Linked DNA regions of Homo sapiens: region 1 is linked to region 2. A link means that fine-mapping ties the variant in region 2 to the expression of a gene that starts in the linked region. Tissue or cell type: whole blood. Region 2 holds a variant in brackets; the other region holds the start of a gene. All regions are shown on one strand. Distances are between the middles of the regions.

Region 1 (8,106 bases), 55 kb before region 2:
CCCCCTGTGCCACCTCTCCCAAAAGCAGACTTAACGGTGGAAAGGAAGGAGGGGGAAAATAAAGTTCCACATTCCTGACATTTTTTAGCCAAGTGCTGTGGCTGCACAGAGCAGCTTCTCTATTCCAAGCAGCCTGTAGGACTGGGAGAAAACCTGGGTTCAGGGGGGAAAAGCTGCCCCCTGCCTTCGAAACAGGATGGCTCAACACTAAACCAAAATTGGGGTAGCAATAGGGGTGAGTGGTGAGGGGAGAGACAGCCTTTCATATGTGTTCCCAAAAGGAAATTATCCCAAGGGAAAGAATTTAGAGTCATCATCTCCCTGGGGACAGAGAACTAAAGCCCTGGGGTCCCTAACGGGGAAACAGAAGCCCCCTGAATGCAGAAGAGGTGACCAGTGAGTGGGGGAAAGAGCAACGCAGGGATGCAATGCAGACACAAGGGCTGTGGCTGCCTGGCGCGTGGGCTGATGGGGGAGAGGGACCCAGCCCATTGGCAGAGGCACGACAGAGGTCCCCAGAAGGAGGAATGGCCAAGAGAGTCGCTCTTTGTGGGAAGAATTATAATTGAGTTTTCCTGGCTCAGCTTCCGAATGAAGGAATCCTAGCCAGGGCCAAGTCAGAACCCCAAAAGCCTATGTCCTCTCACCCCTTTCTCCCATTCCCCTTGCACCTCTTCCTGCCGTCACTTCTAGGAAAAGGGTGGTGAGTCCCCAGTTGCACCTACCATCGCACCATATGCATCCCTACATACCCACACATGCACACCACACACTTCCAGAGAGAAACCCAGAAGATCCTAAGTGATATCCAGCCAGTCCTGTGCTTGGTTATGAGGCGTCTCCCCAGGCTTTACTCTGAGTGTGAAGATGCCCACATTTGTTTCTCTGTGGTACCTACAGTATCCAGGACGCTTCTGCTCTCATTTGATAGAGGCAGCAGTTCCAAACTCCCCCTCCCCACCCCCAGGAATACTTATCTCTGTGGAGAGTTAGTTAGTCGGTGGGTAAAGACAGTGAGGCCCCCACCATGTGCCCAGCACAGAAGAACACAAGACCTTCTTACTGGAGGCTTAGGGCAAAGCCCTCTTTCTCCCAGAGAAGCACAGACTGATGATCTCACAAAGTACCTCCAAAAGAAGGAGACACCTGCCCTGTAGGTCCTGTAGGTTCAAGGTGCTATGGGAAGAAGTGATGGGCTTGGCAGGAAAAGGGGGCCTGTAGGCATTTCAACCAGGGGCCTTGCTACACTCCCCAATACAAGCCTAAGGGGGAGGAAGAGTAGTTTTGTTTGTTGTTTTTCTCGTCTTGGGCCTTTCTCTTTCACCAGATACTGGAAGTAACAGCTCTTAACACCTTTCAACTTTTAGAGTGGCAGGTTTAATGCACAGGACTTTCCATAAGACTAGAGACCCAGGGAAGGAGGTAGGTACCAAACTCAAATGCTGGCAGCCCTTTCTGAGCAAAGATAAAACAGGGAGGGCCACAAACCCTAACAAATGCTAGAAATATGACGGAGAGAGCCACAGGCTATGCGAGAAACTTCGTCGCTGCAGCCTGTGGCTTTGAGGTTTACAGCTGTCACGTGTATCTTTCCAGCCACACCCTCCAAGGCTGGGGACACGCACTTGGAGGCCTCTTAGAATGGAGGACAGCAAACAGACAGCAGAGAATGCGCTGGGCAAAGGAAATTCTGTTATTTTGTTAAGCTATTATTATGATAAATAATCACAGGGCTCCAGGCGCAAGAGACTTTTTCATGTTGGTAGGAGATGTTATGGCTTTTGTTGCTGATATGATCTCAGTTAAACCTTACAACCACCCTGTGACGAAGACCAGTTTTATGAACGTCTTTAATGATGGGGAAACTGAGGCTGCAGTCAGTTTTCAGTCAGACTAGTCACAGAACAGGGACTGAGACACACGGATATGACTCTGTGTGACACCACACACTTCCAGGGGAGAACCCAGAACAAGGTGGAGCAAGCCCGACCCAATATACCACTAGAGAGAGCTGTGAGAGGGAGAGGAAGGAGAGAGGGACTGAACTAAAGGAGCACTATCAAAAAGTGGAGTGGAGACCCCAGTCCTAGCACCACCGTTTATTTCCTACAGACCCTAAAGCTCAGCCACGGACACATTCATTCATCCAACCCTGACTTGGCCACCACAAGAACGTTCCCAGCTTGAGGGCAGCTTCGCCAGCCAATTAGGGCCCTTGTCATTCGTAGAGATACAGGGAACCCGAGACAGAGGGACAGGGAAGGAAATTTAGCCAGGCAAGCCATCCTCCATCTCCAAGGAAGTTTGTAAATGATCACAGCTTCCTAACCCAACCGTGAGAATGCAATAAGCAAGCTGACGCAGAAGGGAGGACAAGGAGTCTCAGGAACCAGAGGAGACCACGGTGAGAGTGAGGGGAATGTCGCTCACATATCTCACTTCTGAGACAAGATATACCGCAACAAACCCATGCCAAGCTTCCTCCAGTTCTTCCCACTTTTGAATATCACATTTTTCTTGCTCTGCAAGAGTAGGGAATCCTTCCCATCAGTCTTGTGAATTCTGACCCCTTGCTGGCTTTCTACAACTCCCTGCCTGGGAGGCCGACACCAGGACATTGCTGTTGGGGGTGGGATCCCCATCCTCTGCCCCCCACTCCTACACTATAAGAGAATCAACTTTCCCCAAAAAGTGGAGGGTATCCCTGTCTCTCTTCTTGTCTCTGTAAAGGGGGTGAAGCTCTGGGTCGCCGCAGATGGATCTAAAGGGACAGTTCACGGAGTGGTAAAGGATATCCAAAAATTGGCCTTCTAGAGCACAGCAAAAAAGTGGGAGCGAGACGAGAGCAGAAGGCCACTGCTGGGATGGGGCCAGGGCCACACGTGAACATCCGAGCACGTTCCAGAGCTGAGATGCAAAACACCCAGAAAATCACATAGGAAGTGGAAAAGGTTCTGGGTCTCTCCCACTGGAAAAGCCCAGAAGAGCTAGTGGCCACCCCTTGGGGCAAGAGGGGGTTGTGCAATGACTGCGGGTCTGGGAGTCTCTGGGCTTGGCTCCTGGACGCCAGAAAGGGAACCCCACGCGTCAAGCCATGGTGGCAGCGCGGCGGTTGGTTCGAGGCCAGGCTGGGGTTTCAGGGCTGCAGACAGAGCTGCAGGATACGATGAGTGCCCAAGGGGGCGGCAGAGCATGGCATGGCTGGCACGGCGCGGAGCTGGGGGTGCTGTCTGGGCTGGCCGGGGTACAGGCCGGAGGGGTACAGTGCACAAAGCCGGGGTGCAGATAACGTACACGGCAGCCAGGAGCCTCCGATCAGAGGAGGGCCCGCTGACCTGCAGGGGTGTGCCGGGCGGTGCACGACAGGGGGCACTGTCCCTCCAGCTCCCTCCTCCCCAGGCTCTCACCTCGAACATAAGCCCGATGAGGACGCAGAGCACCAGGCAGAAGCCGATGTCCGCATGGTTGTGGATGACGAACTCCTGGCTGAAGAGCGGGTAACTTTTCGTCCTCCTGCGGAAAGCCATGGCAGCGGGCGCGCAGCGGCCGGCGGGGCCCGCACCCTGCGCTCACGAACCGCAGCGCAAACTTCTCCAGCACCGGCCCGGTCCGCCCGCCGGCCCGCCGCCCGCTCTCCCACAGCCGCTCGCCCGCCCAGCGCGGAACAACTTCGGGGCCCGCCCCCTTCCTCCGCCCGCCCCCGGCCGCCCGTAACCGCCCCCGGCCGCAGCCCCCGCCCAGCCCCCGCCCAGCCCGCGGCCCGCACTCGGCGCGCCTGGCCCCGCCCCCCGCGGGCTTAACCCTCTAGCCGCTGGGCACGCGCGGGCTACCGGGGCGGAGGCGTACGGGGGCGGCGAGCGGGGCTCGGCTCCTCCTCGTCCCGCGCCAGCGCCGCGCCCGGCCGCATTCTCGGGGCCCGAGGCTCAGCCGCTCGCGGTGGAGAAAGCAGGCCGCGGAGGAGGCGGGCGCCCAGGCCTGCCCGGACAGGAAGTGGGCCCAGCTTTCCCACTCCTCGCTCCGCTCCTTCCTCCGCGGGAAGGGCAGGCCCCGGAGGCAGCGAGCGCCCCGGGGGTGGCCGGGCAGCCGGATGCTCCCGGGGTTGCGGGCTGTGGCCCCGGGGGCTGAGGGCGGCGCGGGTGCGGCGGAAGCAGGGAAGCCGCGAACCGGCCTTCTGGCTGGCCACAGCGCCCTGCACGGACGATCAGTGAATGGAGATTACTCAAGTATTTATCGAGAACTTGCAGTGGGCTAGGCACAGTTCAGGTAGATCAACAAACCGAAAGACCCTGCCCTAGGGGAGCTTTCGCTCCAATGCGGGGAGAGGGTGGATGATTGCAGTTTTGCCCAGTAATTTTTGGGACCCTCATGCCACCATTAATTAGCTACACACATTTCACCGAAAGTCTACCTTACATATTAATCAGAAGAAGTGGAAGAATAAACACAGAAGAAGCAAAAAAGGAAGGAACTTTCTCACTGAAAGTTTCTATTTAATATTAAGTCTTAAAAGTACTCCTGGAAGGACAAAAGGTGTTCTTAATAAATTATATTCGCAAATATTGGATTTAATCCTACCAGTAATGAAGCAGTCAGTTACTTTCTAGATGTGCAGAAATACGTAATGAACAAAAAAAACTAATTCCTATTCCATTTTTTATTAGGTCCACAGTTATTTCACTTCTAAATAAATATGGTTTTTTAAAAGTGGCACGCGGTGGAATGTAATTGAGACAGGATGGAGTTCCTAGAGAAATTTTACTTCCTCAATCTGCACTCCACCTTACTTAAAATACAGTCTTGGGTCTGTAATTCCCTTATCTGACTCTCAAGGAAATGACAAAGTAATGCCTAGATTGGACTAAACCTCATTTAACTTCAAGGCTGACCTTTCTCAAAGTTGAACCTTCGTCTTGTGAGGAACAGAAAGATCAAGAACTCTGAAGCACCTCGACTTTCCACCTGTGAAGATGTGTTCAAATTTGCAACGTGCGGCCACACCTATGAGGTTGAACTTTATACAATTGGTTTCTTTATAGGTTTAGATGGTTGAATTTAAGTTACCCCCACTGCTATTATTATTATTTTGAGACAGAGTCTTAACTCTGTTGCCCAGGCAGGAGTGCAGTGGCGAGATCTGGACTCACTGCAACCTCTGCCTCCTGGCTTCAAGCAATTCTCATGCTTCAGCCTGTAGCTGGAACTACAGGTATGTGCCACCACACCTGGCTAATTTTCGTATTTTTTAGTAGAGGTGGGGGTTTCACCATGTTGACCAGGCTGGTCTCGAACTCCTGACCGCAAGTGATCCGCCATTTTTTGAGACGGATTCTCTGTTGCCCAAGCTGGAGTGCAGTGACGCCATCTCGGCTCACTGGAACCTCCTCCTTCCAGGTTCAAGCAATTCTCCTGCCTCAGCCTCCTGAGTAGCTGAGATTACAGGTGCCCTCCACCCCCTGCTAATTTTTGTATTTTTAGTAGAGACAGGGTTTCACCATGTTGGCCAGGCTAGTGTTGAACTCCTGATCTTCAGTGATCCACCCGTCTTGGCCTCCCAAAGTGCTGAGATTACAGGCCACTGCACCCAGCCTTTTGCTACACATTTATACTAAACTATATTATGGGGCAGCACAGTAGGTTTGTTTACACCAGCATCACCAGAAACACGTGGTTAATGCATTGCGCTACAATGTTACAGTGGCTACGACATCACTATGTGATAGGAAATTTTCAGCTCCATTAAGATCTTATGAAACAACTGTTTTATATGTTGTTTGACCTGAATATCATTACGTGGCATATGGGTATATGTCCTCCAGTTTTTCAACATTCCTTCCTTCAAAAAGAGGCAATTCGTTCCCCCACCTTGAGTGTGGGCTGGACTTAGTGGCTCACTCCTAATAAATAGAAGGTAGCATAAGTGATGGTATGTGACTTCCAAGACTAGGCCAGAAGAGGCATTTGAGGGTTTCTGCTTTCTTTCTCTCAGGTCACTCCCTCTGGAGGAAACCAGCTGCCACTTTGTGAGGATACTCATAGTCCTGTGGAGGCATATCCTCCATATGGCTGAGACCTCCTGCGAACAACCATCACTGACTTGCCAGACATGAGTGTGCCACCTTGGAAGCAGATTTTCCAGCCCCAGTTAAGCCTTCAGATGACATCAGCCCCTGCTAATCTCTTGACTACAACCTCATGAGAGACCCTGAGCCAGAACTAGCCAGGTAAGCCACTCCTGAATTCCTGACCCACTGCACCTGGGAGAGAATAAATATTTGCTGTTTTAAACCACTAAATTTTATTGTAATTTGTTATACAGCAAGAGATAGCTAATACACACTGCTAAAGCTTACAATCTTTTAGAATTGACTGAGACATCATTACAATTCAGTGTGATGATGGTGACTCTAAGAACAACCTGAAATATGCACACTCTGAGTACAAGGAAAAGGTAACCTAATTCTCTCTGGGGTGTAAGGGAGGAGGTCATTTGGGCTGGGCCTTTACCTGACAAATGGTACTGACAGAGAATGCAGAAAAGGAGTGATAGATGAATTTGGAGAGTTAAGATAGAACTGGATTGTGGCAGGTTTTGTATGCTGTGATAAAGAATTGTGACTTTATTCTGCAAACAATGGGAAGGAATGGAAAGTTGGTGTTTTTTGTTTATTTGTTTTTGAGATGGAGTTTCCCTCTTGTTGCCCAGGCTGGAGTGCAATGGCACCATCTCAGCTCACTGCAACCTCCACCTCCCGGGTTCAAGAGATTCTCCTGCCTCAGTCTCCCAAGTAGCTGGGATTACAGGCATGTGCCACCATGCCCAACTAATTTTGTATTTTTAGTAGAGACAGGGTTTCTCCATGTTGGTCAGGCTTGTCTTGAACTCCCAACTTCAGGTGATCCACCCACCTCAGCCTCCCAAAGTTCTGGGATTACAGGCGTGAGCCACTGTGCCTGGCAAGAAATGGAAAGCTTTTAAGCATGACCAGATCTGTCTTTAGAGGAGAACTATCAGGAGTATGGAAGACCATCCTGATTTAAACAGGAAGACCACTTTGGAAACTATTATAACAGTCCAGTAAAGAAATGGACACTTCTCTCTTCTTTTTGAGACAGGGTCTCTGTCACCCAGGCTGGAATGCAATGGTGCAATCACAGCTCACTGCAGCCCCAACCTCCTGGGCTTAAGTGATCTTCTTGCCTCAGCTTCCGAGTAGCTGCGACTACAAGCACACACCACCATGCCTGGCTAATTTATTTCTATTTTTTGTAGAGACAGGGTCTCCCTCTGTTGCCCAGACTGGTCTCGAACTCCTAGGCTCAAGTGATCCTCCTGCCTCTACCTCCCAAAGTACTAGGATTATAGGCATGATCCACTGCGTCTGGCTAGCACTCCTCAAAGAACAGTAGCAGTAAGAATAAAAGGGAGTTGAATGAGTCAGAACTTGCATCTGGGATAACATAAATGATGGTGGGACCATTAAAAAATTTATTTGGAATAACAGATAAAGAGCATGTTTAAGGGAGGAGAAGAAGATGGCCTCTGCTTTGAACAAGCTGAGGTTGAGGAGCCATGGAACACTTTGACAGCTCAGTTGGAAACTGTTGGATTGGACTTGGGGAGGGAAAATCACAACTAAAGTATTTTCAGTTCATCTTCAGTAGGACTGTTGAGGTCATCAGGTTATATAAGTGTTCTGAGAGAATGAGAAAAAGTCTGAGGTCAGCAGAATCCTAGTGAACCCCGACACTCGGAATGGGGGAAGATGAGGAAAAGGAAAGCGTGGCGTAGAGGAAGCCACGACATAAGAATTTCGTTAAGGACAGGTTGAATCAGGCAGAACAAGAATGAGATGAAACTCCCAGATTCAGCCATCGTGGCTTTTAGAGACCACTTAATTGAACATTAGAGTGGGCTTAACAGTAGGTAGAAGTTGAGAAAAGGAGGTGGGTAAAAACGTCTGTTTGTAAAAAAATGTTTTGTGAGAAAAAGAGAAATGGATGGTGTTTTGAGGGCTATGGAAGATCTAAGGAAGGACCTTTAAATTATATTTAATTTTTGAGATTGGAGCATATTTGGAGACAGAGAGGAAAAACCCAGGAGAGAGG
Region 2 (8,106 bases):
TTGCAGTGGGCTGAGATCACACCACCGTACTCCAGCCTGGGTGACGGAGCAAGACTCTGTCAAAAACAAAACAAAAAAAATAGGAAAGGGAGAACTGTGGAATCGGGGACAGACCATGGCCACAGATGGATCAATGTGTTGATGTTATTCAAAGCTTATTCAAAGACAGACTGGCAGTTGGTCAGAATAGCATCCTAAGTCAACACCTCCAGCTACTCATGGTCTACCTTTGCCATTAATGGGATCATAAAACATGGTATTAAGGTGACAGGTCATTTCATTCCATTTAGATCTCATAGTGGTTTTGCCAAACCTAGAAAATAGTATGTGTCAGAAAGGCAAAAATCAAGAACCAGAGGAAAAAAATCAATCTAAACCAAATCAAACCCACCAACCAAACAACAACGAAACAAATAACAGGAGCTTTCTAGTCTTTGTACTCAAAATGGTGAACAGATGTTCCTCAGATCTACTGAGAAATGGCCTGAAGTTATAATAATGGGAATTTAGACAGATCATAAATTTGGTACAGATGGAATGAAGAACCCAGGGGGTTAAAAATCTCATTATAAATAGGAAAGCAGAGGTAGTGGGTTGGGGAAGGTGGGTGAAGATGTTTTCAGAGGAGAGTTAGTTAACATGGGAATGGGTTACTGATGGAGATTGTTCAAAGAACATTTGCTCTTAGCAGACATTAAAATAAGATGGACTCTCACCTCTCTGGAGCAGCATAAATAAATTCTTAGGCCTCTCAAGATTTTGCAACTCTAGGATTATCTGTAGGGTGTAATTAAATATTAGTACCAGAGTTCTTTTTATGAAATGTTATGAAATGGACATCTCTCGGAAGTAGGTCTTCCTGGTCAAGATAAACCCTATTTCCCTGTCCTTAGCAGGACCACATATGGACAGATTACCTAAGATTTGTGATTTTGGGGACAATGAGAAATGCTCCTCATCTTTGGGAACTTAAGCAATGGTCCTCAACAATGGCTGCATATGGTAATCGCCTGAAAAGCTTGAAAAAAAAATTGATGCTGCAAGACTTATACACTGAAAACTATAAAATGTCACTGAGAGAAAATAAAGAAGGCCTAAATAAATGGAAACATGTCATGTTAATGAATTGGAAGGCTTAATATTGTTAAAATTGCAATACTCTCCAAACTGATATACAGATTCAGCACAACTCTGTACAAATCCAGGCTGGCTTTTTTTTTTTTCGGTAGAAATTGACGTGATCCTAAAATTCATAGGGAAATACAGGGACCCAGAATAATCAAAATAATCTTGAAAAAGAACAACAGGTAGGGCGCGGTGTCTCATGCCTGTAATCCCAGCACTTTGGGAGACCGTGGCGGGTGGATCACCAGAGGTCAGGAGTTCAAGACCGGCATGGCCAACATGGTGAAATCCCTTCTCTACTCAAAATACAAAAATTAGCAAGGCATGGTGGCCTGTGCCTGTAATCCCGGCTACTTAGGAGGCTGAGGCAGGAGAATCACTTGAACCTGGGAGTTGGAGGTTGCAGTGAGCCGAGATCACACCAGCCTGGGTGACAGGGTGAGACTCCTTTCAAAAAAAAAGCAAAGTTGTAAGTCTCACACTTCTCAATTTGGAGCTTAGTACAAAGCTACACTACTCTAGACTGTGTGGTACTGGCATAAGGATAGAGATAGATCAATGGAATAGAATCAACAGTCCAGAAATAAGCCCATGTGTCTATGTGGCCAACTGATTTTTGACAAGGCTCCTTAGACAATTCAACAGGGAAAGAATAGCCTTTTTAGCAAATAGTATTGGAGCAGTTAGAGAATCCACATGCAAAAGAATAAAGTTGGACCCCGACCTCATACCATATATAAAAATTATCCCAAAATACACCAAAGACATAAATTTAAGTGGTAAAACTATAAAACTGTGAAAAAGAAAACATAACAGGATTCTATGAAATTAAAAAAAATTCTATGAAAAAATATTGATGCCTAGTCTCCACTCAGATTAATCAAATTCAGATGTCTAGGAATGAGGGTTGGGCATTTAAATTTTTTATCGCTTCCTGGTGATTTAGAAACACCACGGGCTTGCAATAAACCATCAACCTGTTTTGATTGTGTATTCGTTGGCAGAGATTAACATGATTTTTGACTCCTATTGCACTAGTAGTTAATTTTGACTGGGGACAGACAGCCAGAAAAGGACTGAAGCAATCCTAGCTAAATGCCAGAATTCACCAGTACCGTTAACAGAGGAATATGTTGTTACATTATATCCTAATGTACTTTTTACAAATAAGTTTTCCCTAGAGCTAGCTATTCAGTTGGCGTGTTCCCTCATTCTCCGTATTCCCTCATATTCTCCATATGGTAAGGTTTTTCAAAGGATGTAACATTAATGTCACATTATCCTTAATGACAGTGTCAATATAACAATATGTAAGTTCCTTCTTTTAAAATTTACTCCTGCTTCAAATTTCCCACTGGTATAGCATGGTAGACCCTAGCTGTCACCCCTAGCTCTTCGGACCCAGGAGTAGGATGCAGCCTTCAGACCGTAAGTGGTCCAAATGGTGAGGTGGGAGTACTTTAAGTAGTAGAGCCTAAACTCTTTCACTTAAGTGAAGGCAAGAACTACAACTGTCCAGTGGTTTTAAATTTTAGTTTATCATTTGTTTAATATTCCCACTTAATTCCAAAAAGGAAGTTGAAGCAATCTATTTCATTGTTTGAGAAAGCAGATTTAGGCTCAGAGGAGGCCTGATAAGCAAAATATTAGGTTTCCAGCATGGTTCCTTATGCAGAGAGACTTGAGTCTAATAATTCCCCCTAACCTGGATATTATATATCATTTTGGAAAGTGATTGTTTTCTACAGGGTCTAATCCTATGACGAGAAGCAGCAGGGACAAAGCCATGCAGAAGATACAAACATAATTGCAAAGTTCTAGTGCACGCCTACTGGGAAACACCTTTTTTTCTGATAAAATGCCGGAATCATACACACATATGTTTTTTGTTAGAAAAGTTTTGTATATTTAAATGATAATCTTTCTGAAACATGTAAGTCTCTAAATAATGGGTTTCAAATGTTTAATCTGTTGTTAATAAGCATAGTGAATGAGATGCAAAACATACTCCTGGGGCATGTCAGAGTTACATAAAATAACTCTATCTGTAACTTTACTACTTTTTATTCCATATAAAAAAGTATATTAAAATTGAAGTAAAAGTAATGTTATTTATTAATACTTGAATCTAGGTAGTAGGTATAAGACTATTGTTCATTGTACTAGTCTTTGCTAATACTGAATTGTATAGTTATATGAATATTTAATTTGGGGGTGGATTCAATAGAAATGCAATTAGTATAAACTATTGAGGTAGTTTCAATATTGGGATAATATTGAATCTGTTGAATCTAAAATTACCCTAATAATAATATCAACTTAAACAAACATTTTACTAGAGACTTCTGGCCTAGTCATGATGGAGTAACTAGTACCAGACATCCCTCCACTCTCAGCAACCACAAAACCACACACAATATATAAAATAACTATGATAAGACACTGGACGGCATTCAGGGAGGACTGTGATTCCTTAAAGAAGGGAAATAGGTAATCTATACATACAAAATGGCTTCACTGATAAATTATCTCAAACATTTAAGGAAAAAATAATAATTCTACAACATTCATTTTAGAAACACTTAAAAGCTTAAAAAAAAATTGAGACAGAGTCTCACTTGATCACACAGCCTGGAGTGCAGTGGCACAATCATAGCTCACTGTAACCTCCAATTCCTGGGCTAAAGCAATCTTCCAAATAGCAATCCTAGCAAGTAGCTAGGACTACAGGCAGGCGCCACTACACCTGGCTAAT[TTG/T]TGTGTGTGTGTGTGTGTGTGTGTGTGTGTAGAGATAGGGTCTCACTATGTTGCCCAAACTGGTCTTAAACTCGTGGCCTTAAGTGATCCTCCTGTCTCAGCCTCCCAAAGTGTTGAGATTATAGGGACGAGCTGTTGCATCCAGCCAACAACTCATTTTATGAGTCCAAAACTATTCTGATATCAAAACCAGAAAAAGACATTACAGAAAACTGACTAATATCGTCATGAACATAGACGCAAAAGTCCTTAAAATTTTAGCAAATTGAACCCAATGACATAGAAAAAGAATAATGCATCATGATCAAATGGAGGTTATACTAGGAATGCAATGTTAGTTTAATGTTTGAATATAAACTGATGCCATTTAATAGAATAAAGAAGAAAAAGCATATGATCATCTCAATAGATGTAGAAAAGCATTTGACAAAATTCAACAACCATTCATGATAAAACCTGTCAACAAACACAGAAGAAAACTTCCTCAACCTGATAAAGCAGTGGTCCCAACCTTTTTGGCACCAGGAACTGGTTTCATGGAAAACAGTCTTTCCACGGACATGTGAGGTGGGCGGGGTGGGGGGTGGGGAGTGGTGGTTTCATCAGGGCATTAGTAGATTCTCATAAAGAGCATGCAACCTAGATCCCTCTCATGCGCAGTTCACAAAAGGGTTCACAGTCCTATGAGAATCTAATGCCACCGCTGATCTGACAGGAGGTGGAGTTCAGCTGGTAATCCTTGCTTGCCTGCCGCTCACTGCCTGCTGTGTGGCCCGGTTCCTAACAGGCCATGGACCAATACTGGTCCACGGCCCAGGGGTTGGACCCCTGTGATAAAAGACACCAATGAAAACTTTATAGCTGACAACCTATTAATGGTGACAGATTAAAACATTTTCCCCCTAAGTACTGGCCTTGATCAGGGCCAGTATTTCTACTTTCACCACTTCTATTAGAGGTCTTAGACACCTCTATTAGATGTCTTCAACAGCACAAAAAGACAAAAATAAAGAAGAGGCACAAAACCATAAAAGAAAGAGTAAAACTGTCTTTATTTGCAGATGATATGATTACACAGAAAATTCTAAATAACTTAACATAAGCTACTGGAGCTAATTAGTAAATTTAGGAAGATTGCAGGATATAAAGTTAATATATAAAGTTCAGTTGTATTTCTATATGTTAGCAAATGAACATTTGAAGACTGAAACTTAATACCATTTAGAATAACACCAAAAACTCAAAATATTTAGGAATGCACTTAATAAAATTTGTGTAAGACATACACCTTGAAAAATTATAAAATATTGCTAACAATCAAAGAAGAAAAACAAATGGAAAGACACTATCACTTATCGTTAAGATGTCAATTCTCCCAAAATTGGCCTGTAGATTCAACACAAGCCCGATCAGAATCACAGAAGCCTTTTCTGTAGAAACTGGCAAATGGACTATAACATTTTTCTAGAAATTTGAAGGCCTTAAAAGAGGTAAAGCAATTCTTAAAAAGCACCAAAAAAAAAAAAAAAACAAAAAAAAAAAACAAAATCAAAAGCAAAAAACCAAAGTTGGAGGATGTATACTATCATTAATTTCAAAATTGCTATAATGCCATGGTAATCAAGACAATGTGGTATTGACATAAAGACAACCAAATAGATCACTGGATAAGAATACAATATAAGAATAGTCCCATATATATTGATTTTTGACCAAGATAGCAAAGAAACTAAAAGGGGAAAGGAAACACTTTCATCAAACGGTGTTGGAACAACAAGCTATCTATGCAGAAAAAAACACTTGAAATTCATACCTCACGCTAAACACAAAAATTGATTTGAGATGAATCATATTGCTAAACACGAAAGCTAGAACCATAAAGCTTCTAGAAAAAAAACACAGGAGGTTATTTTTACAACTTACAGATAGGCAAATATTTCTTTTTCAGCACACACAAAGCACTAATTGTACAAGAAACAAATTGAAGAAATGAACTTTCATCAACATTTAAAACTTCTGTTCATCAAAAGACACTGTTAAAAATTGAATAAACAAGCTGCAGATGGGAAAAATATTCACAGCATATATATTTGACAAAGGACTTGTATCCAGAATAAAAAATAGCTCCTGTGACTCAATAATGAAAAAGACAAACAATCTAATTTTTAAAAAGCCATCAAGGAAATTTCTGCTTCCAGAAAAATTGAGTAGACGTACTTTTCTCTTATACTTTCTGCCAAGGACAGCTAAAAAAACCCTGTACATTTTATATAAAACAAAGAAAAGAAGACTCTGAAAGGTGGAAAGAAGGCAGACCAGCAGTTGACCTCGGGATCACAGAAACAAGTGGGTGAGCTCCCTGGGCTTTGTTTTTGCTTCATATACATATATCCCAGACTAGTTGCTTGAGAAGCCAGCAACCTGGAAATATCAATGGAAACACACACACACACACACACACACTCACACAATCACCTAGAAAAAGCCTGCTCACTCTTGCCAAAGGATCAGAAAGGGACAGCTTAGGGAGACAGAAAACTATTAGACAATAATGACTCTACTCCAGCTAAACACCACAGAAAAATCTGTGATCTCACCCCCGTCCCTGCCTGCTAAGACCAACTGGGGACCGTACCCTTGTGAGGTTATAATGAGGCACCCTACGCATCCTTCCTTCCTGCTTCCCCGCTTAAGGTGGTGTTAGAAATCAGAGAGCTGGAAAAAAAGTCCTGGCTTCACTCCACTCTGATTTCAGTTGTTCAACTTTTTAAAAAAAACCTGCTATGAGTTGATGAATCACCATTTTAGCCTAAATAACTTTAACTAGATTTAACTGAGAGCTCTAATTCAACTTAAAACTCTTTTTGCTAAGATCTAAACTCTACGTACTCTCTTATCTCAACTTTCCATCCTTTCATGCTTCTGACTACTTGATTCTTGTTTTGTCTTTAATTGCATCAGCCATGCTTGCCCCACTTCCTTTAGTGCCCAGTCTATATCCTATACTGCATCTCCTCAATGATGCTTTTTGTTTAAATGACTTTTATTGAGCTATAATTTGCCTGCATTATTCAGCCCCTTAAAATGTATAATTTGTTCAAATGTCTTATCATAAAAAATGATAGGTAAGCAAGGTGAGGGATCTATATATAAATATATATATGATACTTTTTTTTTTTTTGAGACGGAGTCTTGCTCTGTTGCCCAGGCTGGAGTACAGTGGCATGATCTGGGCTCACTGCAACCTCTGCCTCCCGGGTTCATGCAATTCTCCCTGCTTCAGCCTCCCAAGTAGCTGAGATTACAGGCACCCGCCACCACAACCGGCTAATTTTTGTGTTTTTTAGTAGAGATGGAGTTTTGCCATGTTGGCCAGGCTGGTCTTGAACTCCTGACCTCAGGTGATCTGCCCACCTCGGCCTCCCAAAGTGTTGGGATTACAGGCGTGAGCCACTGTGCACAGCCAGTGAGGGATATCCTAATTGTCTTTATTTAATCATTCCACATTGCATACACACATCAAAACATCACATTGTACTCTGTAAGTGTATACAATTATGTACTCTGCAAGTGTATACAATTATGATTTGTCAATCAAAAGTAATATTAGTAATACATTTTTAAAAATGTAAAACGCCAAACACAACAAAATATACAATTTCATGAGTTCTAAGGCATGCAAATACAAGTGAAACTACAGCTACAACCAATATATGAGTATTTTCATCACCCTCAAAAGTATTATCTTGCCTGTCATCAGTCCATCCGTCCCTCCACCCTCAACCCCAAGTTTTTGTGACTGTATTTGCATTCTTACTATAGTTCGTATTTACATTTTTATGTCTGGCTTCTTTCACTCGTCAGAATGGTTTTGCATGCATGTTGCATTTATCAGTAGTTTGTCTCCTTTTCATTGCTAAGTAGCATTCCATTGTACAGCTAGACAGTACATTTTGTTTATCCACTCACCAAGTGAAAGGCATTTGGGTAGTTTCCAGTTTGGGTAATTGTGAATAAAGCTACAATGAACACTCATGTTTTTAAAAATGATGGCACAGAAGAATATTTAGTGATAGGGAAAGATGTTCATGACCAATTGAATTGTTAAATGAAAAAGGTTACAAAATGAACCCTTTTTTGTAATAAATATATTGGCATAAATAAGTAAATACACAGAAAAAGTCCAAGACGTTAATGAAGGTTATGGCTGGGTGTTGAGATTAT

What was found. PIP is the estimated chance that this variant, and not a neighbour inherited with it, causes the effect.
Region 1: TRAM2-AS1 starts here. The variant in region 2 is fine-mapped to the expression of TRAM2-AS1 in whole blood (INTERVAL, PIP 0.97).

Annotation. Positions count from the first base shown.
Region 1 is chr6:52,573,389-52,581,494 of GRCh38, forward strand. TRAM2-AS1 (TRAM2 antisense RNA 1) reads left to right here and starts at 3,814. Exons shown (of 3, transcript NR_103446.1): 1 at 3,814-5,005; 2 at 5,987-6,221. TRAM2 (translocation associated membrane protein 2) reads right to left here and starts at 3,672. Exons shown (of 11, transcript NM_012288.4): 1 at 3,408-3,672. The coding sequence starts at 3,527. RefSeq lists enhancers at 1-476, 1,078-1,127 and silencers at 1,478-1,527, 3,385-4,244.
Region 2 is chr6:52,628,678-52,636,783 of GRCh38, forward strand. No RefSeq gene overlaps it. Among named protein-coding and RNA genes, the nearest start is that of TMEM14A, 38 kb to the right of the region's middle. The variant TTG/T (reference allele first, on the strand shown) is at 3,881.